Linked DNA regions of Homo sapiens: all the other regions are linked to region 5. The links come from fine-mapping of genetic effects on gene expression. A gene starts in region 5. Each other region holds a variant in brackets. All regions are shown on one strand. Distances are from middle to middle.

Region 1 (5,102 bases), 32 kb after region 5:
TTACCACCCTTCAACATTCTATTACAAAAACATATCTGTTATTGACTGCTGGGTCACAGTAAGTCATACTTTAATTATGTTTGCTCCAAATATGTAGCAATGTAAGTGCTCTAGGCTGGATGTGGTGGCTCACGCCTACCCAGCACTTTGGGAGGCTGAGACAGGAGGATCACTTCTTGCTCCATGCAAGAAGGGGGGACTTGAAGTCAGGGGCCTTATTAGCTTGGGCTGAGCTGGGCTAAGAGACTCCCTCCAAGACAAAAAGTAATGAACAGAGAAGGAGAAGAAGGGAAAGAAAAGAGAACAGTACATAAGCAAAAAACACCTCCCAGTTAAAAGGGCTTACAAACAGAAATTTCAAAAGACACAAGGAAAATGGCTCAGAAAAACTGCCAACAGTAATTAGCACATGAATTCACTTCAGGTAACATTTTATAGAACAATCTTACAAAGACTTTCAAGTGAGTATGTTTAGTATGCATAAAAAGATGTAAAATCTAGAAAGAACATGAAATTATAAAACAAAAATGAAACAAAATCAGATATAAAATTAGAAATTTTGAAAACAAAAAGTGGTAATTGAAATAAATTATAGATGGAATAACTTGTAGATTAAATATAATTAGAATTAGTGAATTGGAAGTGAGTGCTACAACTCACCCAAAATGAAATATTCCCCTGAACTTAAAAAATCAGACCTAAAGAGACAAAGAGTATGAAAATATAGTTTAAAAAAGATGTCTAGATTGAAAAGTGTCAACACTCATCTAATAGGACTCTAAAAAAGAAGTACAAAAGGAATGGTCTAGAAGTTATGGAAGAAATAATGATTGGTAATACTGTAGGATAAAATACATTAGTCCTCAGATTAAAAGTCTATCTATAAATACATATATATCCCTGGATACAGCATAGTGAAACCAGAATCTTCCCTATAAGACACTTCCTTGACTGGAGAAAAGACAGACTATGAATTAAGATGAAAATAAAGAAATTTTCAGGTAAACAAAGGTGAGTGAGTGCCACTGTTGGGTCTTCACTAAAGAAACATTAAAGGGTGTATTTCAACAAGACAAGAAACCCCAGAAGGTATGAGATACAAGAAACACTGAGTATAGCAATTAATAAAACATTTGGCTGTGACTGCTGTTGACTAGGGAAAGGGTTAGGGTTTTATGGATAATTGTGTTTAAAAATAAAAATTAAAACTTAAAGAAATATGAAATATATGAACTGAAAATGAAGAACTGTTTTTATAGATAATTAAATTATCTACATAGAAACCCCAAATGACAGACACTTTTAGAACTAAGAGTTCAGCAACCCTGAACAACTCTGAGCACCTCTTGTATCTGCTGCCAGATACAAGACCAACACCCCAAAATTATAAGCATTACCACTTCAGGAATAACCAACAGAAACATAATGGAAAAAAATCTCATTCACATTAGCAATAAAAACTATAAGATCACTTAAAAATAAGAATTTTTTAAATGTAAAACCTTTATGAAGAAAATTACAAAACCATATTGGTGGATACATTCAAAAGACATGAATTAATGGAGAGGTATAACATGTTCGTGAATTGGAAACTCAATTGTATTGTCAATATCTTTCTCCGTTAATCTATAAATGTATTGCAATTCCAATAAAAATCTCAACAGTTTTTATTAGAATTTGTTAATCAACAAGTTTATCAACAGTTTTCATTAGAATTTGACAAGTTTATCTGAAAGTTAATATGAAACAGCAGAGGGCCAAGAATAGCCAAAGCAATTTTGAAGAATGAAACAAACTTGTCCTACTCAATAGACTTTATAAAGCTACAGTAGTTAAGACAGTATGCTACTGATGCAGAAACAGATACACGAACTAATTAAAGAGGACAGACAGCCCAGAAACAGTCTGACATATATGTAGATATATCTGATATACAAGAGAGGAGGTAATACAACTAAATAGTTCTGTGACAACAGTTTACTCATTTGGAAAATATATTAGGTTTCAACTTCATCCCAATGCAAAAATACATTCTAGTGGATCTAAGACCCAAATGTAAAAAGCAAAACTTTAGAAACATTAGCAAGGATATGGAAAAAGAGGAATACTGTTGTGGGTGGGGGTGGGAGGGGAGGGAGGAGGAGAGTAATGATGTAAACTGAAGTACTTAAGAGAACAATTTGGAAATATCTAATGTATAAAACAAATTTTCATTCATATACACAAGAAACATGTGTTTCTTCCAGCACTGTTTATGAGGGCAAGAGACTGTATAACCATGCTAAATGCCTCTTAACAAGAGAATAGAGGCAGGGTATGGTGGCTAACACCTGTAATCCCAGCACTTTGTGCAGCTGAGGTGAGCAGATCACTTGAGGTCAGTTCAAGACCAGCCTGGCCAACATGGTGAAATCCCGTCTCTATTAAAAATACAAAAATTAGCTGGGCATGGTGGCACACGCCTATAATCCCAGCTACTCAGGAGGCTGAGGCACCAAAACCACTTGAATCCGGGAGGCAGAGGTCACAGTGAGCCAAGATCACGCCACTGTACTCCAGCCTGGGTGACAGAGCGAAGACATGGTCTCAAATGACCAACAACAAAAACCAACAGAATAGATAAGTTTTTATGATATAATAGAATACCATGTAACAAATAAAATGGATTAATTAAAAGTGTAGGTTAAGATAATAAAACCACAAAATCAAAGCTGGAGAGGAATAAACAAGTTGCAGAATGATCCCAGTAACATACCTAATTTAAAACTAAAACCTGTTTTTATTTTACAATAGGTTGTACAATATGTCTTTAGCTTACAATAGTTTACAACATATTGTAAACTAAAAACAAGTTTTAAATTAGTATGTTACTAGTGTGTTACATATTGTAAAATTACATATTGTTTATGAACACATAAATATACTGCAAAAATACAAAAAATATGTATGAGAATAAAAAGACCGAGTTCATAGTAATCTACAGGGAAGAAGGTGAATGGTATACAAGTGACTTCAGCTATGTTTATCAGTATCTTTTATGAAATAAAACAATTGAGCACATAAGACATAATTTTAAGATTTTACAAAGCCAGATG[G/A]TGGACATACGAGTGTTCATTACATAATTATCTATTCCTGTATGTTTGAAATGTTTCACTAAAAATAAAACCCCTAATATTTGTATCTACATTTTTTAAATCTAAAAAGAGAATGCTTCTTCCGCTGGCAATATAAAGTTAAAAATTATTCAAGGCACTATCAAACCCCAACCTTTGAAGATCTCACTATTCTGCTGAGTACAAGACAGCCTAAAAGAGAACTGAGAGCAAGCTCAAGAAATCATTTCTTTTTCTCCTAATGGCACCACTTTTCCAGGCCTTTAATGACTCCTATTGGGATCCCATTGCAGTTCAAGTCAGGCACTTTCTCCTGAGCATAAGGTTCAGAGTCTAACTCTGGGTGACTTTTAGGTTCACTACCATGATCATCATCCAGAAACTTGCACAAATGTCTATTGTGTATAGCAGTTAGCTGGATATTGTCTGGAATAAAATTGACTGGCTCTCTGCTCTTGAGGCATTTCACCTGGTCTATCTAACAAGGATCTCAGCCCTCAGAGAGGCTCCAACAATTAATTAACTCTAATCCTTACCTGTACAAGTACTCAGCATACATTATGTATCTGTCACCTCTCTCCATCCCCATTGCCATCATTTGTCTTAAGTCATCGCTGTTTCTTGCCTGGAGTATGCAACAGCTTCCCATTGATCTCTCTACTTCTTGTTTGTGTCCAATCCAGTCTCCGCAGAGCAGCAGTCAGAATGATCAATTATGTAACGAGTTTCCAAAATACAAATCTGGTGTCATTTCCCTCTTTAAATCCCAGGTTGGTGGCTTCCTTTTAAACTTAAAGGCCCTAAAACTTGCCCAAGATCCAACAGCTAGTAACTCTTCAATCTTCTTAGAGCGTATGCTCCTCATGCTCTCCTGTGACATCCACTGCTAAATGTGGCCAGCTTTAAATGCCATGTTAAAGAGACTGAGCCCTTAAAGGACTTTGAACAGTGGAGTTGTCTTGAACATAGCTTCATTTCAGCAAGATTTACAGGCATTATATGTAAATCACACCAGTAGATTTACACTGCTGTAAATGCTGCAAAGGAAAAGTACAGGGTGCCATCTGAGAGTATACCGGGGTACCTGATCCAGCCTCTAGGATTCAGGGATGGCCTTTCTGAAGAGTTAACATTTAAGATGAGATTTACAGGATGAATAGGATTGTATCCCTGGAAAGAATAGGAGAATGGGTGTTTCTAATAGAGAAAATAAAGTAGCCTTTTGAAATCCCAGAGGTGAGCAAGAGCTTGGTCGTTCTGAGGGAAGAAAGAGGCAGGAGAGGAAGCTATATAGTGAGGCCAGCCAGATCTTCAGGTACTAATTTAAAAAAATTTTTTCTTTACATTATCCTTTAAATGTTACCTCTTCAGAAAGGCCATCCCTGAACCCCAGAGGCTGGATCAGGTACCCTGGTATACTCTCAGATGGCACCCTGTACTTTTTCCTTTGCAGCATTTATAACAGTTCATATTTACTGATGTGATTTACATATAATGCCTGTAAATCTTGCTGAAGTGAAGCTGTGTTCAAGACACTCCACTGTTCAAAGTCCTTTAAGGGCTCAGTCTCTTTAACATGGCATTTAAAGCTGGCCACATTTAGCAGTGGATGTCACAGGAAAGCATGCAGAGACTGAAGATCTAAGTTACATTCTAAGAAGATCTAAGTTAGAGTTACTAGCCACTGAATCTTGGGCAAATTTTTGGGCCTCCCAGAGACTAAATTTACTCATCTATAAATGGTGGCATTAGTATATGTATGTGCGGTATGCTTAGAAGATCCAAATGTTAACTTATGTGCAAATGTTTTTAATAGTAACTCTGTTATTTTGATCATTTTTAAGTTGTGGTAAAATATGCATTGATACCATTTACCACTAGTGACATTTAGTAGTATATCCACAATGTTGTGCAACTGTCACCACTTGATAATTCTTTTTATCACACCTTTTCTCAACCCCTATCCTCAACATACTCTGCTTACCACCC
Region 2 (5,102 bases), 31 kb before region 5:
TCTTGTGTATCCAATTGCCCACTAAGCAGACCCACTTCAACGACCCATCAGTATCTCAAACTCAACACAACCTAAACACACCACATTGCATCTTATGTGTCTGTTTCTTCTCAATCCCTAGCTAAGGCAGGGGCTGTGGCCTATCTAGCATAGGCCATCGGCTGCCCCACTGCTCTGAGGGGGCCTGTGCTGGGAGCTGGAGGCCTCAGCTGCCTGACGGGCCCACACACTGCCCCCCAGAAGGTTCCAGCAGAATCTCACCCTGGCGTCTGCTGTCTGGGCCACTTCACGGATCTTTTTCACCCAGTCCTGCAGCTCCTCCTGTGAGTCGGCAGCAACATCCAGGGACCAGTGGGCCACCGACGCCATGCTGATGGAGAAGACGAAGAGCCGGTTGTTCTTGCCCTCAGGACGGATGGCTGGGAGGGCGAGAGCAGATAACAGCTGGGAATAGACATCTCACCCCCTCCACCCCACTCCACACCGCAGGCACTGGCTCAAATGAGTTCTATCTCATCCCATTTCCTCCTTCCCACACCCCATGAGGGGAAGGACTACTCTGCTGGCCCATTTGACAGATGACGACGCTACAACTCAAACAAGTCACTGCTGGTTGTGGTGGAGCCAGTGTTCCAACTCAGCTCTGACTCATGCTTCTTCCTCAGGCCGTGTCTCCCTCTCCACCCCATCTCCAAGCCTCTGTCACATCCCTGTGGTACAACCCATTAGGCCTGGGGATGTCAGCCAACCAGCAGCATCAACTTTGTTCTGCTGATTCTGACGGGTTCCCCAGTGCCTGGCATAGGTAAACATGCAGGGGTCAAAGCTGACAGTGACAAAGGGAGCCCAGGGTGTCAAGGGGATGTCCAGAGCATGGGGAGAGCTTGGAGTGAGGGCAGACTTTGGGGTTCAGCCATCAGCTTCCTCCCTAGGAGCAGGAAAGAGATACAAAGAAGAATCTCACCCTAGGGAACAGTGGGCAAGAGAAACAGATGGGAGCTCACCAATCTGACAAGCCGGCACATCCAAGACCCCCCGCAGCAAGTCCCCTAGGGGGCTGTTCTCGTCCAAGTGCTGTGGGAAGCAAAGCCCACCAATGGTCAGCATGGCTACTGCATATGTGTGTGAGGGGATATCCGTGTGCATGGGACAAATACATCTTGTGGGTGTACCTGTGACTGCCAAATGTAGCACAGGTATATGGGAGACTACGTGCATGGCCACATGGGCTGTGCGACCAGCCCATGTGACAGGTGTCTGTGCATGCACGTGCGTGCTTGGGACTGTGTGATGGGGGCATGCCAAGGAGAATCTGGGAATAGGGAATGCTGTTACTCAGGTGGTTCTGGTCTTACCTCCCTCTCCGGCTCCAGGGCCACGGGGTTGACCATCTCTTCCACGTAGTTTGATGGGAACCACAGCTGCTTCTTCCCTCCGTAGTCCCCTCGCCACCTGTGGGAGCCACAGGGTGCTGACCTCCAGCAACCACCCCGAACTCCCATGAGGAGGGTATCCTTTGGTAGGGGTTCCCATGCCTAAGCCAGGGTGAGGCAGGCACTGCTGGTGCACACAGGAGACAAGCACATCACAAATGCATGTCTTTGGGGCCCCAGCTCCACTGGGGCCCTTGGACTCTGGGCCTACCACACCACTGGCTTACCAGCCTCCCTCTTGCTTCTCCACATTCTGGATGATGGCGCTCTTGATGAAGGTCAGCTCGTCCTCCCTCTGGGCCTTGTAGTCAAAGAGGGCTTTGACTGCACACTGCAGAGGTGAGAAGCACCAGTCAGAGCAGAAAGGCTCTCCCTGCCACTGCCAACCTGGGGCTTCATGTGCACACACACATGTGCTTGGGCTTCCCTGCCTGGGGTCAGGCCAGTGGGAGATGACACTGCCATCAACAGGCCCTAGTTATAGTTCTTGTTACTGCCCTGCAGGGAAGCTCCAGGACAGATATGATCAGAGAGGCAGGGCCTCTGCCAGTGAAATACCTCGGGACCCAGGTGGAACCTTAAGCCCCACCCTGGGCCACAGGGAGAACCTTGAATCCGCTCCCAGGAGTCAGGGCTGGCAGGCCAAGAAGGCAGGGTCTGCAGTGGCCCTGAGTGCCTCCCCGGGACCTGGAAGCATATGGGGCCTGGATGGGACCCTACCACTCATCTGTGAAGTGGAAAGAAAAACTTCCTTCCAGGTCCCCTGGCTGTGGAGGGGAGGGGGTGAGAAATAGGGCCCAGGCCTTTTTAGAGAAAAAGGCAAAACAAAAAAGAACCTGTGTAACAGGGCTCCATGAGGCCGGGGAATGAGTGGCCAGTGTGCCTCCCAGCTCCTACCCCGCTGCTGCCCAGGAAGGAAACAGGGGTCACCCACAGGAGCAGTTTAAAGGGTCACTGCTGACTTAAGGGGTAGGGGCTAGGGAGTGGGTCGGCCCTGGGAGACCTGCGGTCGCTCACCAACCAC[A/G]CATCTCTCACAACCTCTTGGGCCTCGGAAAACCACAACCACCACTTCTCCACAAAGACCACAGATGGCCCAGAACACAGAAATGAAGCCCCAAGCAGCTGGGGACCCTCCCCAGCTTCCTATGCCCAGAGGCCTGAGCTGTACCTTGAAAGTTGGCATAGGGTTTGCCTCTACATAGAAGCCAGGGTTGCGTCCCTCATACAGGGCCCCGTAGTCAGGCTCCTGGAAACAGGACACAATGGGATATGTTAATGCCCCAGAGCCCAGAGGTAGAAAGCAGCTACTGGTTTCTGGAGCAGCTTCCCTTTCCCCCAGTGCAGCAAACTTGCACCTGATCCACAGGGATCCTTCGACCTCAGTAGAGACGGCTTCAGAGGCCTCAGGCCCGGCCTCACTGTTCCCTTTCCTTTCTTCACATTCTTACATGTAAGGCCCAGCCCAGGATTCTAAAATCTCTCAGGTCCTAAATGCCCAAACTCCCAAGTATTTCTGAGCTATGTGCAGGTGGGCCCTTCACAGACTACCCATATTCAGTGCTTTAGTTCAGTGGCTTGTTGGTTCACTGCTGAGCCCAAAGTCAGGAAAAGCCTTCCCACTCCCCACATTCCTCCTGCCGCTCCTCTCCATCACTTGAGTCCCAGGTGCCAGTGGACAACAGGCCTCTCTCTCCCCAGCCAGCCCTGTCTACTGACGACAGCAGTCTCTCAACTGATCTTCTGGTCCTAGACCCCTTCCTTCTGTCCAGGGCCCTTATCACCAGCTGTGCTGCCATGGGTCCTGACTTTTTCCCTCACTGGTCTCACCTCCTGTGGCTCTGCCCTCCATACCATCCACCAGGCGGAGGCTCCACAACCACTCTTGGGTAGCCTCATCTCATCTGCCCTAGGACAGAGTCCAGGCCAAGCCCAGGTGGATGAGTTTCCACTGTGTGCACCTCTCCCAGTGTGAGCCCCAGAACCTCCTCACTCCACATCTTGACTCATGAGGAACCCTCTGCTTATGTGCCTGTCCCCATCCTTAAAGATGCTGCTCAGATGTCCCCTCCTGCAGACACCCTCCTGGTACCCACACTGTGGCTCCCAGCTGGAGTCAGGGGCCCTCCCACGAACTTCTACAACACACCAGGTCTTGCTGTTACACACATCCAGAGACTGGTAAGATTCTGGGTCTCTCCTGCCTCCCCTGCCATGCCCCGTCTACCACAGCCCCCTCACAGCTGTGCCAATCTTCTCCAGTGCCTCCTCGTTGATGGGATAGCGCAGCTTCATCTTGCGGTATAGCGGGTGTTTCTCATAGTAGCTGATGAGGTCAACAAGGCTGTCGAACTCCGAGTTCCCTAGCATCACTGTCTGGCCCTCTTGCTGGACACGGCAATGCTTGATCTTGCCCTCAGCCCTTCACAAGGACAAAACAGTCACACAGGGTCAGGGCAGCTCAGACCCAAGCAAGGCCCCACAACCCAGTGCCACACCCCTCACCGGAAAGAGATGGCATATGAGTTGGGTTCATTCCGCTTCCGCACCAGGAAGGCCCCATCACGAGGGACGCGCATTAGCATGTGCTCAGCCTGTGCTCTGGTCAGGCTCGCGTGGTACCACCTGAGAACAGGCAGAGTCAGGCCCGGCCAGCACCACCCATGGCCCTGCCCTGCCTTGTCCGCCCCCAGGCCCTTCCCTCACTCTTTGCTCTCGTGGGCGTTGGTCTGTGGGACAGGCTCTGAAAGTCGCATCTCAAACTCATTACAGCGCAGGGGCACCTGCTGGTAGTGCGTGATGAGGTCATAGAGGGAGTCAAAGACGAGGTTGTCTGTCAAGAAGAACTTGGGGGTCCCAGCATCTTGCCGGGAGTGGATACGGCAGTGCTGGACTTTCCCGTTCCGCCTGTGGAAGACACAGAGTGAGGGAGGCTGGGGAAAACAGGCCAGGGCCCCAAAGACCAAGTTCCACCCCAAATGAGGGTGGAACTCAAGGAGGGAGCCTCAAGGAGGGAGGCCAATCTCCTGAGGAGCTCAGGTGTGGGCAGTCACATGAACCAAAGGTGTGGGCTTCAAATGAACCGAAAAGGGAGGGGTATGGGGGGGGGGTGAGACAGAGAGTGTGTGTGTGTATGTAGGTGAAATTATGTTCCATGTAAAGCCTAATTATTGTCCTGGATCAAAGGCTCAAATGTTAACTGATTATCTCTGGGTGATGTGATGTCTGTGTACACACGCTGACTGAACATACGCATCTGCATGGGAAGTGTTACCAGAAAGAGAGCGTGTAGTCGCCCACGAAGGTCTCACTCTCTCGCACGAGGAAGGAGCCGTCAGGGGCTCCGGTCTCGATGCAGTACTCAGTAAGCAGGCGCTCAGCGATGTGACGCCCGTCACGCCCTGCCCCTAGCTTCCCATGGAACCACTTCTCATTGGAGTGCAGCTCTGTGCTGCTGCTGACCTGTCAGGGGAAGGCAACAGCAAAGATACTGTGACCCTGGCCCAGGCCTGACCTGGCCCAGCCCCCAGACCTGAGCTGGTTCCTCACCTCCTTGGGCTCCTCCTCATCCTCGTTGCCCTGGTCACTGCTGGTCTCCTCAGAGTAGTAGATCTTGCTGCTGGTCAGAACAAAGTAGTGGGGATACCATTCCTGGAACAGACCAAAGAGGGA
Region 3 (5,102 bases), 130 kb before region 5:
GGTGATTTTGTAAGCTACACTCCTAGAGATTTTTGTAATACTTTCTAAAATCATTTCAATTTTTTTTTTATTGTCAGTGACCTTGGTGTCAGGAATAAGAAAATTGTATTCAGATCAGTCAAGCAGAGCCTGTGCAAAAACGAAAAACATTAATTTTTTATTTGTATCTCATCTGTTTTGTTTTTCGAAGGAGGAGCTTGAGGCTATATTCTGGCAAATGATCTGAGAAGAGCGTCTTACTCAGAAAGCTAGAAGTGTTTTGCCAATTATTATGAAGCTTTTTTTTTATGAATGAGGCTGTTGCTTCTGGCCCACAGTCAGTGCTGTTTTTGGAGACTTTTTTCTCCAGCAAATGTTGTCTTCCACACTCCTACCTGCTTCCTCTTATGATCCAAAATATGCCATCCAGACTAAAAATCTGTAGATGTGAAGCAAACAAAGCTAACTGGTTTATAGTGGATTGAACCCATAGCTTTTGGCATCATCTGAATCAACCAATCAACTGAACTCTAATGCCTTGGTTGAGTAAGGGTGTTGCAATTTTAAAGTTAGAAGGGATCTGGCAAGCATAGGAAAATATCTATCATGCTGGCTATTTTTCTAAAAAAAACTTTTGTAGGCTGGGCATGGTGGCTCACGCCTGTAATCCCAGCACTTTGGGAGGCTGAGGTGGGTGGATCACGAGGTCAAGAGATCGAGACCATCTGGCCAACATGGTGAAACCCCGTCTCTACTAAAAATACAAAAATTAGCTGGGTGTGGTGGCGCGTGCCTGTAGTCCCAGCTACTCAGGAGGCTGAGGCAGGAGAAATGCTTGGACTTGGGAGGCGGAGGTTGCAGTGAGCCGAGATAGTGCCGCTGCACTCCAGCCTGGGGACAGAGTGAGACTCTCTCTCAAAAACAAAAAACAAAAATACTTTTGTAGAGACTGTGGTCTCACCCTGGTGCCCAGGTTGGTCTTGAACTCCTGGCCTCAAGCAATCCTTTTTCTCAGCCTCCCAAAGGATAATTTTCAAAAAATAAGCAAAGATGAGGTTTAAGGTAGGGAGAATTAGAAGTTGTTTCTCAGTAAATTATTAATAAGGAGAAATTTTCAAGAGCTAATTCAGTAGACATTGAGCTACTTTAGGCATACCAGGACAGAAGCAGAAAAAGTGAAATAGATGGATGAGACTGTAGCTTACTGCACAGTTATATTTGCCCAGGTACCCCTGACTATGAACAGCAGCATAGTGCATAATACTTTTTTTTTTTTTTTCTGAGACGGAGTCTCACTCTGTCAACCAGGCTGGAGTACAGTGGTGTGATCTTGGCTCACTGTAAGCTCCACCTCCCGGGTTCACGCTATTCTCCTGCCTCAGCCTCCCGAGTAGCTGGGACTACAGGTGCCTGCCACCACACACAGCTAATTTTTTTGTATTTTTAGTAGAGACAGGGTTTCACCGTGTTAGCCAGGATGGTCTCGCTCTCCTGACCTCGTGATTTGCCCACCTCGGCCTCCCAAAGTGCTGGGATTACAGGTGTGAGCCACCGTGCCCGGCCTTTTTTTTTTTTTTTTTTTGGACGGAGTTTCGCTCTGTTGCCCAGGCTGGAGTGCAGTGGTGCGATCTCGGCTCACTGCAACTGCTGCTTCCTGGGTTCAAGTCTTCTGCCTCAGCCCCCTGAGTAGCTGGGATTACAGGCGCACACCACCATGCCCGGCCATTTTTAGTAGAGACGGGGTTTCACCATGTTGGTCAGGCTGTATCAAACTCTTGACTTCGTGATCCGCCCGTCTCGGCCTCCCAAAGTGCTGGGATTACAGGCGTGAGCCACCGTACCCGGCCTTAACATAATGCTTTTCTTTAGGTAATTTACCTAACAAGTTTCCTTATCTGGGTGATTAGAATATAGAATCAACCTCATAGCATCATTGTAAGGATTGGATTAATGTATTTAAAGATCTTAGAACAATCCCTGATGCAGTGTAAAGCTAGATATGTGTATGTTAAAGACATAAGATGCTGGTGTTAAGAAGTTAAGCCACTTGGGTGAGGGATTTTTTTTTTTTTGAGGGGCAAAAAAAATGTGTACATTCATGGATGCTCGTAGTCATGATGCTCTAGTCATGATACACTAGAGTCTAGTGTACAATGCCTACACGTCTGTTGGAAGTTCTGAGACCTTCTGGTATACTCGCTTTGGGACCATTTTACTGCTAATGGGCATCTCAATCAAAGATAATTCTTCAAGAAAGAAATAAGAACTCAAAAGTAGTGGTTTTACAGCTGTTTCCCAAGTAATTTTAAGATCCCATGAAGCATCTCTGGTTGTCTGTTGAAAACATAGTTACTGTCTCATTCATTTAC[C/T]GAAAGTGCCATGATGAAATAGGGGTAATAATGGTCAGAGACAGAGATGAAAACAGTTCCTTGGCCTGGAACTCACAGTCTGAGCCATTTTTGTGCCTCTAGAATCCACACCAGGAAAACCCGAATGGAAGAACATCAGAAAATAGCACATCCTTGAAGTTACAAAGCAACACATCTGTTAGTATTATTTCTGCCAAGCTGTCTCAAACTTAGCTGGGAGAGAGACATGGAAACTCATTGGTGGAAAGAGCGTTAAAATTACAGATTTTGTTCTGATCTGTTATCAGAGACCATTGAGTTTGCTTTATTTCTACTAGGAATTTTAATAGTTTCAAATTGCTAGTTTGTATTTTGATAACCTCTTTTTCACCTTTGTCTCACTGGTTTTTCTGTTTATGTATAGTTCTAGTGCGAATGAATTAGGAAGGGAGACTGATGAGATTGGATAACTCAGCCTCCTAAAATGTTTTCTCATAAAGTGATGATGTGCTGCTTCTTTTATAGGACTGAAATGCAACTGCAGAAGCAACATGTGACCTTTTAGAGATGCTTGTGGGACTGCATAAAGTGAAGAGGGAAACTGGAAAAAAACAATGAAGTAAGGAAAAAGTATGTTTCTTGGGTAAATAGCATGCTTCTGAGTTTTCACAAGTTTCTTGCTACATTAATTACCACAACTTTGTAATGCAGAAGTCTTTATATTTAGTCTTCGCATTGCTATTAAACATTATTTTCTCCTCCCTTGTTTTTTATTGCTGAAGTCTTTGATCAAATGATTCTTTTTTGGATTAATCTAAAAATCTGCATTGAATCTACAACTTCGATGATTTCTTTGATCATCTGATAGGAATCTGTTATAGGTTGACCATTGAGATCATAAGAGTATCCTGTGTTGTGTCTCTCTATGATGTGCAGGGTGAGTCAAAGTGTCAGCTTTTAGTTTGAGTGCAGAACATACACTTGATTGACTTGAAAAACTAGAAAACTAATTTGAATACCAATTATTCAAGCCATATTCTCAGGTTACAATATATGTGACACTACACTTATCTCTGGGATCTGTGGAATAGGAAACCTTTTAAAAAATGATCTAGTGTATTTAATGATGGACATATATTCACAGTAGACTATTAAAAAGCAGTTACAAAACATATTAAAATTTAAATTGGGAAAACTTTTTTTAATGCTAAACTTAATACGGAAAGCAAAGCACACTAGCAAACAATCATTGTAAATAGAGCCTTCATTTGATGAAATAGATATGCCTTAGTAAGCTGTTTAAATAAAGCATGTCTTTTACATTATTTTCCATTATTAAGAAACTTTGTCCAGTAAGCTGAATAGAAATTTTTAGAAGGAGAGAAAGAAATGGAGGCAGAGTCATTGATGATGTGTGATGCTGGAAGTTCTGTACAACTTCTTTAGGCAACTCCATGGCAACATCTCTCTCTCCTCCTTCACAAGCCTGGGGACCACCAGCCCGTGGGAATTTTCCCACAAATGTAACTTCTGGAACTTTCTGTCTTGTGGTGGGCACCTTCCCTATGCTTCAGTAATGGATTGCTGCAGGCGTAATCTTGGGTAGTCTACCTTGATCATTATTTAACTTTGAGTCTTAAAATTGAGTAAAACTGTTTAGTGGCTTTATATATCAATCCTCTAAACCAAAAATGTCATAAGACAAGTTTCTTACGTACACATCTCCTAGTGCTCACTCTCATACTGACTGCTTCATCACACTGGTCTGCTGGCCATGCTTCAGTCTGCCCAGAAATATTCCTGCTTTGGAGCCATTGTTCTTGTTCCCTCTGCCTGGAATCATCTTCTCCCAGATAGCCAAATGGCTACTGCCCTCCTTCTTCAGGTTTCTGCTCCAAAGTTAAACTTTCAAAGATGCCTTGTATGGTACCCTCAATTGAAAATGATACCTTACCATACCCTGGAATCACTCTATCCTTCTCTATTTTTTCTATAGCATTTATCACCATCCAGCCACTGTAGATAAATTTGATTGGCTGTCTCCCTGCCTTCCCTTCACACCCAGTACCTTCCCTGCCTGAAATCCTCATTGAGGGCAAGAACTTTATCCCCAGGATCTAAACCAGTGCTGGACAATAGATGCTCAGTAAGTATTTGTTGGGTGAATGAATGAAGAATGCTTACGTTAGGAGGATTAAGTAGATTTGGAGATCATGTGATTGGATTGAAAATGATTAACAGGGAAAATGTTGTGGAGGAAGTATCTTAAACTGTATGTTAAAAGCCTGCTAAACAGCGGGGCTTAAAAATCATTGTCAAACATAGCTCTTTGATCTAGAAGGTAATTTATAGCCACTTTAGGAATATAAATGGCAGATTAGATATTTACACTAAAAAAAAGACATAAAATATTAAACTAATGTCTAGGAAAGCTTTGGATGGTAATAAATTGGGAGGGTTAGGCCAGGTGCCGGTGGCTCACGCCTGTAATCCCAGCACTCTGGGAGGCCAAGGCAGGTGGATCTCTTGAGGTCAGGAGTTCAAGACCAGCCTGGCCAATATGGTGAAACCCCATCTGTACTAAAAATCCAAAAAAAATTATCAGGCATGGTGGCAGGCGCCTGTAATCCCAGCTACTTGGGAGGCTGAGGTGCGAGAATTACTTGAACCCGGGAGGCGGAGGTTGCAGTGAGCCGAGACGGCACTCCAGTCTGGACAACAGAGTGAGATTCCATCTTAAAAAAAAAAAAAAAAAAAAAAAAAAGGCCGGGCACG
Region 4 (5,101 bases), 46 kb before region 5:
GAAGGGCCAATCTGTTTATCTGTACCTGGTTTCTCATGGCTTTCTCAGCCAGCTGCAATTAAGGACCATTTCTTTATGAATCACAGATGATGAACCTCTCTGATATCAGCCTTACTTTGACTTTGATGTTAGGGTTGCAAGTTACAAATGAAGTGAAGACATCAGTAGAATACATATCAGAACTAGACCCAGCTGCTATTATATTGGAACAGTATGTTCTGGAGAGCCTGGAAGGAGAGGGCAGGATGAAGCATTTTAGGACAGGACTCCAGAGACGGTGGTGGCGGAAGCCTGGGGAGCTAGGGGGATTTAGTGGGCCTGGAGAGGCCAAACCACTGCTCCTGCTGCTAGGCCTAGGGTTTAGCAGGGTCTCTCAGAGAGTCTGATGGCCTTACAAGGTTGAGCCAGCATCCTGTCCTTAACCCACATTCCCTCAGGCTGGAGGGTGGGGGAGTGGGTGGCAGAAGGCCATTCATTGCTCATGGAATTAAGAGGTCCTCAAAGCCAGTGATGCCACCCTGGTATAGCAAGGACCAGGCTGCCTGGGGGGCAGGTGGTGGCAGCTGCCGTAGAGTGACAGGCATGTGTTTTCTTCTCAGAAACAGACTGAATTTGATCTGATTAATGTGAAGGACTGGCCAGTCTGGGAAACCGCCTGCCACGTGGAAGAGCCAAACCCGACTCTCTGCTGCCACATGCCGTTCCCATGCCCGGCTGCTGGGCACCTGGGAGAGCTTCCAGAATCCTCGCAGACAGCCCAGAGCCTGCCGCTACCCTCGGCCTGCCCACCACCAAGCAAGCAGCAAGCAAGATGGGGTTCTCATCAGTTCTTCCTCCCACAATGTAGGACCTTTCCTTTACCTTCCAATGGATAAAATAGTTCAGAGTTCATAGTCATATTCATAGACACAGAATCAAGCTTTTAACATATACATCCACCTCTATATGTTAAATAAAACATCAGATTATCAACACTGTCATTACGTAGAAACTTTGGTTAGCCAAGCAGTGCATTGTCAGTTACGTCATCTCTAAAAATGACCTGTGTCTGTTCTCTGGGGATTGCTGGGTCACAGGTGCCCCTCACCTTCCACAGTCAGGCAGGGAAGTTATAGGCACAAAGCTACGTCTGGAACCCCTTTGTGCCCCCTTTGTGTTCCTCAAGGAAGCAGTACCTTTGAAGAGATCTCTGCTGCATTAAGTGATGACCGGCTACGTTTCATGTCAGGCTTGCTTTGCCTTGTGGGCTACTCAGTGCAGAACCTGCTGTAACCCTCAGTTCAAAAAATGGACTGGCAATGTGATTAGCGTTGGATGCTTTACCATTCTCTTTAGTTGTTACCGTAATTCTGCTTTTTCATGGGAGTTTGAATCATGGACCATAACTTTTCAGTTATCAGATCAACTAAAGAAACATTTGTTGTTAAGCCTAATGTGCTGACCTATGTGCCTGCATTTTTTTTTTAATCTAGACATGTTTGGAGTGAGAGAAAGATGGAAAAAAGACATGGGGTAGGGACGTAAGTGGAAATCTATAGCCACAGCCTGAAGCTTTGACCACTGCGGTTTTCAGAGCCCTTTCTCCACACTCATTTCAGAGCCTCCTATGGTTTGGGAAGGAATAACACACTGGCCCATTAGTAAGGGTGAAGGCTGGAGGGATTTGTTGACTTCTTGGAATTATCAGAGGTAGGGTGGTCTTTAGCACAAAGACTTGCATGCAGAGATCCCTGGCAGAACACCCAGAGTGCCCGTGGCTCCCACCCCAGGGTCTGGCCGGTGTGCTGGATGCATGCCCAAGGGTGCTGGGCATCACTGGTCCTTGTGAGGATGCTTTTAAAGTTTTATATTTATGTCCCCAAACTTGGAAACAAGAACTCTACTTTAGCCTAACCCTCATGTCCTTTTTTGAATTGAGAAAATTACAGGAAATGGTGCCTTTGAAAATTAGAAAACTTGCTTACAGAGCTGTTCTAAATGGTAAATCCTCAATTTCCCCAAGACCGGTTGCTCTGAGAGTAGCTGGTAAAGAGGGGCGAACTAAAGACCTGTCCACCTGTAGCTCCGCTCATTTCTTAGAAACCACCTGCTTCCCAGAGTGCCAAGCCACAAGTACCAGGCTTCGTGGGCACAGACACCTCCTGGGCTGGGCAGAGTGACAGTGCTAGAAGACCCCAGAGAGAGGGCAAGGGCTTTGGGCAAGAAGCACTGGTGGTGTTTTAGGGACCGTCCTTCTCCCCTACCCAGGGAACTGGACCTGGCAGGGCACCGTGCTCATGTGGCTCCAAGGACAAGCATGGCGGTGGCCCCTTCTGCCTTCCAGGAGAGGTCTTGCTTTTGAAACCAAAATCATGTTCTTCTAAAGTGTCATCTTCTGCCCTCCCTGTCCCAATAGGGACCACATCTTATTTGTCTCAAACAGGGACTTGTGAGTACTTGGCAAGTTTTGCAGCCTATTTTTGTATTCTTAATTTGGGGAGTAAAGATGTTTGGTCTCAAAAACCTTTGAGGAATTGCCAAGAATGGCGAGTGATTGCTTTCCTTCAGAGAACAGACACTTGGAATTTCTCCTTTTAGTGTTTATATACGTGCAGATTAATTTATATATATATATATA[C/TAC]ACACACACATATACAGTATAAATACTCATTTGATTCTCGTAAAACGCGCATCTGGCGTGTGCAGTTGAGAAACTTGGTGGCACATGGGTGTTGGGGGAGTAGCCTGTGTTGGAGGGACACCAGTGCACTAGGCAGCTGGGGCGGCCCAGGCTGAAGCCATCTCCGGGTGTCTGAGAAACCACCCAGTGCCTCACCTCCAGATCCTGCTGGCATCACCTCCAGAGCCCTGCATGCACTGGCTGAAGAGTTGGTCTGTGGAGAGGATTTTCTTGGTTACTTGTATTCACGGTTAATTTACAACCCAAACAGCAAAACACAGTTGGTGGACAAGTTCATGCAGGACCTACAGTGACCCAGCCATGGGCACTAGCTCATCTTTCAGGTGGAAAAGTACAGTGCTGCCTGCCCTGGTATGTTTTTCTTATAGATGTTAGCCCTGCCCAACAGCCAGGGCTACACTACAAAAGGCAAGAATGCCCATGTAAGGAGCCCAGCAGTCTGGACAGATCCTTCTTCCTCTGCTGTTGGATGAGAGTGAGTGAGTATGCTCTGGACCTTATCCTTGAAAGATGATCAAAAGCGATGATGAGGGAGGCAGTCATCACGCAGGTGCTTAAAGGGACATTGTAGGAGGTACTCAAGGGTTTGGGGGCAAAACCCTGAATCCAGCCAGTCGTGCACAGAGACACACCCACACTAGCCCAGTGGCAGTGGGGGATGTGGGATGGCAGCAGCCAGGTATGTAGCCCTGTCACAGGACAGCTCACTGTGGTTTTGCACACTGCCTAAGGGTTAAATTGTGTTGTTGCCTTCAGTAGAAGGCATTTGTGGGCTGCAGAGTTGAGAGTTGGGTGAGGTTAGTCTCTCCTGAAGAAAAAGCCTATAAAAAGTGGCTAATCTTATCCCTTTTCTCTGTATGCAGTTGGACTCGTCAGAGATAGTAAAATCATCTTTTAGTGTTTTTTTGTTGCTGATGTCTTGTACCCATTTGTTTTTTACATGGGGTTGTAGATCGAGTTCTCAAAGGTGAAACCAGATGATCATTCTGATAAAGGAAATTTAAATTTGATACATATGCTTTGTATATTTTGATTACTTGTTTTCGTTTTTGACTATAAAGGAGCTTTTTTATTTTGGGAGGGGAGGAGTGTCATTTTTGAGAATCTTGGGTTCCTGAAAAAGAACGCCCTAGTTGGATGGCTTGCCAGGGCCTTGGGGTTTGGTAGTGATTGTACAACTTAAAGCTCCTTTCTCTTGGCTGAGTGACAGGTGGCTGTTCAGGTGGACCAAAGCACCTTGACACAAGGACTCCACACTGTGCTCTCTAGTAGCACAAGGAGGAAGTTGGACAGAACATTGGGTAGTGCCTTGCGGGCTCACACATGTACTAGTGGTCTCATCTCCAGCTAGCCTTGGGAGGCCGTCCCACCAGGAAATCTCTCTATTCCGTAGCCTGAGATGTGCCCTTGTGGGTTTTATCCTGCTCAGTCAGTGGCCTAGGGGCAGGTCCTGTGTTCTCTCCCTCTCTCTCCTGGCTCTGGGACATCTGTCCCTGGCTGCCTTTCATGGAGGAAGGACACTGGCCTTTCTGGTTGGATGCTGTGTGGATGCTCTCTGCTTGAGCCTCGTGGTCTCTTGTCTCTTTTTGGACCAATATCCTCAGATTGGTGCAGCTTTTTCAGTTCAGATATCACACCCCAAGTGGATAAAGGCAACTTGCAGGAGAGGAGAGCCAGCCAAGAAGAAAATTTTAAAACCAAACCTCGTTTAGGATTTTCCTAAAGTCATCTTCTCTTTTTTCTTGCTCAGAGTTTACCTGGGAGATTTCACCAGTTTGACTCACCATTTGCAGATGTGCTTTTGTATTAAATTTAAATTTTCACATATCACATCCATTCTCAAGGTAGTTATATGCTGGAGAAGAAAAATCCTCTAGACACATGAAGGCCCACATAGTCAAGTCTTCCAGGGCAAAGCCAGCAGCCCACCCAGGTCAGGTAGCCAGCAGGGCTCAGTTCCCCTCACTCCAGACACGGACCCTCCTCTTCAGGGTCTCTTGACCCAGCTTCCTTCTCTCCTTTTACCTGAGAGCACAGACCTCTCTCAGCCAGCCTGCCCAGACCACGGGGGGCTACTCCCATGTAGTTTGGGGAGCACTTGATCTCAGAAAAGCTCCATTGTCTGAGCAAATGGGCAGTTGTGGAGCTCAAGCCTTTCTCCTGTGCTCAAGTCCCTTCCCCAAGCAAGGCTTCAACCTCATCTACCCACCATGTAGTTTTCTCTGGCCATTTAAGTGGGGCGGCAGGGACATGGTTGGGCCATGCCACACCAGGGCTGGTGAGGCAACCAGTTTTGATTTTGACAGAGTGGCTGGAGGAAAAGTGGCAATCAAGGTGCTGCTTGGTTTGCTCTGAGTGCAAATGGAACCAACAGGTTTCTGCTGCAATCTGTGTGTTCCCAGTGCCAGGTCACACCAGGAGGGG
Region 5 (5,102 bases):
TCAGGGTCTTGAAGGGCAGCCACGGTCTATTGTTAATGTTATTGCTAATAACAGCTCATATTTATTAAACATTTATGTGTCAGACAATGCTAGATGTTTTATATGAATTGTCTCATTTGATCCTGGAGCAACCATATATACTGGATATATTATTACCCCCATTTTACACATGAGGAAATCAAGGCTCAGAGAAGGTAAGTAACTGGCCGGGAAACACACAATGAATATATGGGCTTCAAATCCAGACTTGCCATCAACCACTGTGCTACATTTATTGCCTGCTAATATGCGTGGTTTAAAATGCAGTCTGTTACCCAGGAGATCTCTGAGAACTTCCAGCCAGTGCCACCAACTCAACACAGCATAGGGAGTAAGGAAGGGGACCATGCCTGGAGCCTGATGCCTGAGTGATGTTCCCAGGGTTATCTCAGCTCTTTGCAGTGTCGATTCTTCCTTTACTTTGGAATCCACAGGCTCTCAAGTCACTAAAATGTTCTCCCAATGGCTGACAGGGTCAGTGGGGGCACTGAGGAAGGGGGCTGCCATTTCTAAGTTGAGCAGCTGCATTAGATCTGTGTCAGATCTGGAGTTTGTAGCTGAGGATGGTTGGCTGCCTCACCACAAGACCTTCCTTCCTCCCAATCTCCTCAACTATCTACACACATGCACACCATACCCAAGAAGGTTTGTGGGACCCCCCCTTGGGGTGTCACTTCCTGATCTCCCTCCTTCACACAGACCTGGTTCTGAGCCTGGGTCTCTCTAACCCTAGTCTCCGGGGGTCCCTGCAAGAAGCAACCCAGTCTAGAGTTGCAGACACACCATCTCTTCACACTGAGAGGCGGGGGAATGGAGGGCAGAGCAGAGTGCCCATCCGACCACAGCACAGGCACGCGCTAAGTGGAACAACTCTCAAAGATCTGGGGTTTTTCAAAATCCCCCAACTCCCTCCTCCCACTAGAGACCAGCGCAAAAGCAGCCAAGCTCAGGCCTGGGAAGGCGAAAAGGCAGGAAACTAAGAGAAGCCGCTCCCGCTCCCTGAAGCCACCGGACAGAGGACAAAGGGCTAGACTCACAAACTAGCTGCACTCCTGAGAAGAATACCTGACTCCAAGGCGCTGGGGCAGGCCTTTATGGGGCCCATCTCCTGGGAACGTGCTTCCCAGGGCAAGGGGAGTCCCTGCCCTGGCATTGAGTGTCTGCCCACCCACATAGGCCTCCAAAACCCAGCTTTGGGACAAAAGTAGCAGAAAAAAAAAAAAAAAAATTCCAGCCACTGGCTTCTCTCAGGCTTCTCCAAACCAAACAAGACCACCTTCCTCCCTCTCCCCCAGAGGGAGATGAGTAGGCCCAGCTCTGCTCCAAGACCAGCCCTACCCAACATCTGCCTAAGTTCTACTTAGGGAACCCAAAGATTCCTTTGCAAATAAGAGCCCAGCCTGGGGGCCCGGAGAGTTTCACAGACTGCTCTTTCTGGATAAAGAGTGGGCGGGGACCGTCTGGTCAGGCCCCAGGTTCCCGTGCAGGGTGGGGGCCACTGCCTTAGCTCCCCTCGCCGACGCCGCCACCACTCCCAGGGTCTGGGGGGCCCGATGCCTGCACCGCAGGTCTCCAGCCCGCGAGGATTTTTAGGCCTCAGGGCAAAGCGCCTGGAACACTCCCCCCAGCTGGGGGAGGGGGGGTGTCCTGTCAGGTGACCGAGGACCCGGATGCCCCCCGCCCCCAGTGACCACCCGAGACGAAGCGGGGGCGGGGCCCGGAGGGAGTCTGGGAGGGCCCGAAAGTTTGCCCAAGTCGCTGGGGCGGCCGGCCGGGGTGCAAGCAGTCGGGCCGGGCTCCCACGACCCCCGCGCGGGGCGGGCCCAGGCAGGAAGTGGGCGCACTTACTGGCCCCCTCGATCTTGTCGGCGCCCCGGCTCCACGTGATCTGGCGCGTCTCCAGCTTGACCTGGAAGGTCTTCCGCTCGGGTCGCTGCGACTTCTTGGAGTAGAACAAAGTCATGACGGTGCCCACCTCGAGGCTGCGGCAGAGGTGCAGCACCTCGGCGTCCGAGGGCGCGCCGGGCCCGCAGCCGTTGGCGCAAGGGGACGCGGCGCCCGCCATGGCTCCGACGCTGGGGGCGGCGGCGGCACAGGCCAGGACCGCCCGGGAGCAAGCGCAACGGCGGCGGCTGAGGTTGGGGCTGAGGCTGAGGCGGCAGACGAGCGGGACCCGGCGGCGGCTCCTGCAGGCGGACACGGGGCGGGGCCTCAGCGCGGCGGGGCGGGGCTGCCCTGAGGCCCCACCCCGCTTCGGCGCCGGGAACAAAGGCGCCCGCGCACCCGTGGGGAGGACCCCCGCCCGTCGGCCCGCCGCGCCTGCGCCCCGCGACCCCCAGACAGGCCGCAGGCGGGGACGGAGGCGCGATGGCGGCGGGAGCGCGCGCCGTTCCCGGTCGACCCACCCAGCCCTCAGTCCCGCAGAGCTTTCTCACGCGGCCCCGGACACAGCCCGGCGGCCACGAGCGGCCCTGTCACGCACGGCAGCCCCGCCCACAGGCCGCAGGCCCGGCGGCCGGCGCGTCAGTCAGGCGTACTCGCACGGGCGGCCGCTACCCCGCGGTCCCGCACAGACGCAGCCCCCGCGTCCCGAACACCGCCCATGCAGCGACCGGGACGGGACGTGAGGGGATGGCGCGTCCTCCGGGAATGCCCGGCCAAACTCAGTTACCTGGGCGGGCTTCCCGGACAAGGGAGCCAGGACGGGCCGCCTCACACCGGCGGCGGCGGGTCCTCCGCGCGCCCTCTCCCGGGAGGGGCGGGGGCGGGGCTGCCTGCGGATTGGTCGCGGGCACTGATGGACAGCCGACATGTCCCGCCCCCCCGGCAGCGCGGGGCTGGTCCGCAGGCAGTTCTGGCGACGGCCAGACCCACGTCTGTCTGTTCCGCCCCTGCTGCCAGGGTGGCTTTCAGTGGTCCTCTCTTTCGGAGAGTTCCCCCCAAGCGTGAGCACCCCTTACAGGGGCGTTAGGTCCGCGGCCGCGCTGTCCAGTGGTCTGACCTGCAGCTCCCAGGGCCTTTGTGTCTGTCCCTCGCATGGGCCTCTGCACGCTCCGTCCCCACGCGACAGGACTCGAGTCCGATTCGGGGCTCCGACTCAGACCCTACCCCGCAGCGCCCTCCTGCAAATGCTCTCCTGAACTTTGGTTTTCCCCGCCTTGCTTTCTTCCTCCTCCTGTAGCCGCTGCCTCTCGATCTCAGAAGCTTCTCTTCCTCTGCACTCAGTGCTAGGCCAGATCCCAAGGCGACCTGACCTTTCCCCTGGCTTTGCCCAACAACACAGGCACCGGTGACTCCAAACCTGCATCTCCCCTACGTTCCAGGCCCCAGCATCCCACTGCATGTTCCACATCCCCCCCCCTTAGACAGCTCGCCTTCCCTCCCCAAACGATTCCTTCCACAGTCTTCACTTTCTCAGAACGCGGCGCTAAACTTCTCTAAGTTGGAAGGTCAAAAACCTTGCAGCTAACTTTGATTCCTCCCTTTGCCTCACCTCCAATCCATCAAGACCTTGTCACTCAGCCCACAAGCTGAAGGCCCCATCTCCTGTCACCCAGACTACTCACCTTGTTTGGTTTTGCCTGGATCTATCAGTTTGGTTTTGCCTGGATTTATCATGCTTTAAATCTTTAAAATGAAATTAAATCATGATCCCCTACATCCAGGCTAAAACCCTCCGTGAATTCCCATTGCACCTAAAATCCACACTCCCTGCTTGGCCTAGCAGGTTCTATATGACCTGCCCATCTCACCAGTTTCATCTCTCACAAGTGATCCTTCACTCTCCATTCTCCAGCCACAAGGCCTTTTTCTGGTTATGGAATATAATTCATACTCTTTGTCTTTCTGAAGCCATTCTTGAAACTCACCCCTGCAATCTATCTACCCTTGTCAGCACCGCCAAAATTGAGGACACCCACGGTCGCGGTGGAGCCTGTCTGACATGTTGAGCCAGGCAGTGGGTCGGCTGCCAGGCACAGCAGGACAACTTACTGCATTTCAGAGGTGAGAAGCCCAACAGAGCTTCCAGCTGATGCCAGAGAAAGAGCCAGGCTTCCTGGGAATTGTGAGATAGTAGGACTAGACTAGAGTTTGTAAGAGCGTGTGCTCAGGCAACCCACTCAGCTGGATAGTGACCTGGGGCTGCTGCTTCTGACTTTGTCTTGCTGTAGTGGAAACTTGTGTGTTAACGTTGATTTCCTCAAGTGCGTCCCCTAAGAAGCTCAGAATTCAGCATGACATTGAGACCCTTTGTCCTAGCCAGCCTCTGTGGAGTAAGGAGCGGTGGGGTAGCTGAGATGGACTGCCACCTAGTGGCAGGTCTTTACGTGGGCGGGACGGAGCTAGCGTAGACCCTGTGCTGAAGGTGTGCACCTGTGGTCACACCTGATCCTCATAATTATCTTCTAATCAGGAATGATGGTCCACAATTTACTGATGAGGAAACAGAGATTCAGAGAAGTTCTACAATTTGCCCCAAAGCCACATAACATGACTAGGTGGGAACTAGAACCCAAGTCGGCCTGACTCCATGAGTTTTCTGCCTCACAGGAGATCCACTGGCTTAGGTAAGTCCTGGTGGTCAGTAGTCAGTGGGCATGGAGGCTATCTGGTTAATCAGCATGGGTGAGGGGAGGCATGCTCACCGCTGGCCTTGGGCACAGGGAATCCAGCAGAACGTGAGTGCTCACAGAGTGTGGCTTGAACTGGCTTAGGCTTGAAGTTCTGTGGACCCTGCTCTTCTCTGTGTTGGGCATTGACAACATGAGGAGCACAAGAGAGACACAGCGCCAGCTCTCTGGGAGTTCAGACATTAAATAAACACTCTGTTACATAAAGACAATTATGATGAGGGCTAGAAGGAAAAACATTGGGTCGAGATCTCTTCAGACCTCAGCAGAGGTCTAAAGGAAGTGAGTCGATGGCGAGGTGAATTATTAAAGGTGGGTTGGAGAAAAGTACATTCCAAGTAGAGGTAACAGCATGTACAAAGGCCCTGAGGCCAGGAAGAGGTTGTTGAATTTAGGGTTACAAAGCTAGAGTTTCCTGACTGAGGAGGGGAC

The links. PIP is the estimated chance that this variant, and not a neighbour inherited with it, causes the effect.
Region 1: its variant is the best candidate, but not a certain one, in a credible set for the expression of PLCG1 in whole blood (TOPMed, PIP 0.66).
Region 2: its variant is the best candidate, but not a certain one, in a credible set for the expression of PLCG1 in whole blood (TOPMed, PIP 0.90).
Region 3: its variant is the best candidate, but not a certain one, in a credible set for the expression of PLCG1 in whole blood (INTERVAL, PIP 0.61).
Region 4: its variant is the best candidate, but not a certain one, in a credible set for the expression of PLCG1 in whole blood (INTERVAL, PIP 0.88).

The regions. Positions count from the first base shown.
Region 1 is chr20:41,103,001-41,108,102 of GRCh38, reverse strand. All of the region lies in intron 13 of TOP1 (DNA topoisomerase I), which reads right to left. The region is part of intron 4 of PLCG1-AS1 (PLCG1 antisense RNA 1); the gene reads left to right. Among named protein-coding and RNA genes, the nearest start is that of PLCG1, 32 kb to the left of the region's middle. The variant G/A (reference allele first, on the strand shown) is at 3,096.
Region 2 is chr20:41,165,429-41,170,530 of GRCh38, reverse strand. It overlaps PLCG1 (phospholipase C gamma 1), which reads right to left. Exons shown (of 32, transcript NM_002660.3): 15 at 4,980-5,081; 16 at 4,705-4,892; 17 at 4,137-4,337; 18 at 3,936-4,055; 19 at 3,672-3,852; 20 at 2,602-2,679; 21 at 1,661-1,764; 22 at 1,356-1,452; 23 at 1,005-1,074; 24 at 262-419. MIR6871 (microRNA 6871) reads right to left here and starts at 1,508; the gene lies at 1,453-1,508. The variant A/G (reference allele first, on the strand shown) is at 2,458.
Region 3 is chr20:41,266,834-41,271,935 of GRCh38, reverse strand. It overlaps ZHX3 (zinc fingers and homeoboxes 3), which reads left to right. Exons shown (of 4, transcript NM_001384317.1): 2 at 2,853-2,946. Among named protein-coding and RNA genes, the nearest start is that of ZHX3, 48 kb to the left of the region's middle. The variant C/T (reference allele first, on the strand shown) is at 2,349.
Region 4 is chr20:41,180,700-41,185,800 of GRCh38, reverse strand. It overlaps ZHX3 (zinc fingers and homeoboxes 3), which reads left to right. Exons shown (of 4, transcript NM_001384317.1): 4 at 600-5,101. The coding sequence ends at 610. Among named protein-coding and RNA genes, the nearest start is that of MIR6871, 14 kb to the right of the region's middle. The variant C/TAC (reference allele first, on the strand shown) is at 2,618.
Region 5 is chr20:41,134,644-41,139,745 of GRCh38, reverse strand. It overlaps PLCG1 (phospholipase C gamma 1), which reads right to left and starts at 2,203. Exons shown (of 32, transcript NM_002660.3): 1 at 1,888-2,203. The coding sequence starts at 2,104. LOC124904903 (translation initiation factor IF-2-like) reads left to right here and starts at 2,233. Exons shown (of 2, transcript XM_047440629.1): 1 at 2,233-4,044; 2 at 4,454-5,102. The coding sequence starts at 2,407. The coding sequence ends at 2,988. It overlaps PLCG1-AS1 (PLCG1 antisense RNA 1), which reads left to right and starts at 1,746. Exons shown (of 7, transcript NR_109889.1): 1 at 1,746-2,032; 2 at 3,935-4,044; 3 at 4,454-4,607. RefSeq lists enhancers at 1,086-1,165, 1,314-1,413, 1,335-2,119, 2,904-3,688 and silencers at 1,564-1,823, 1,944-2,933.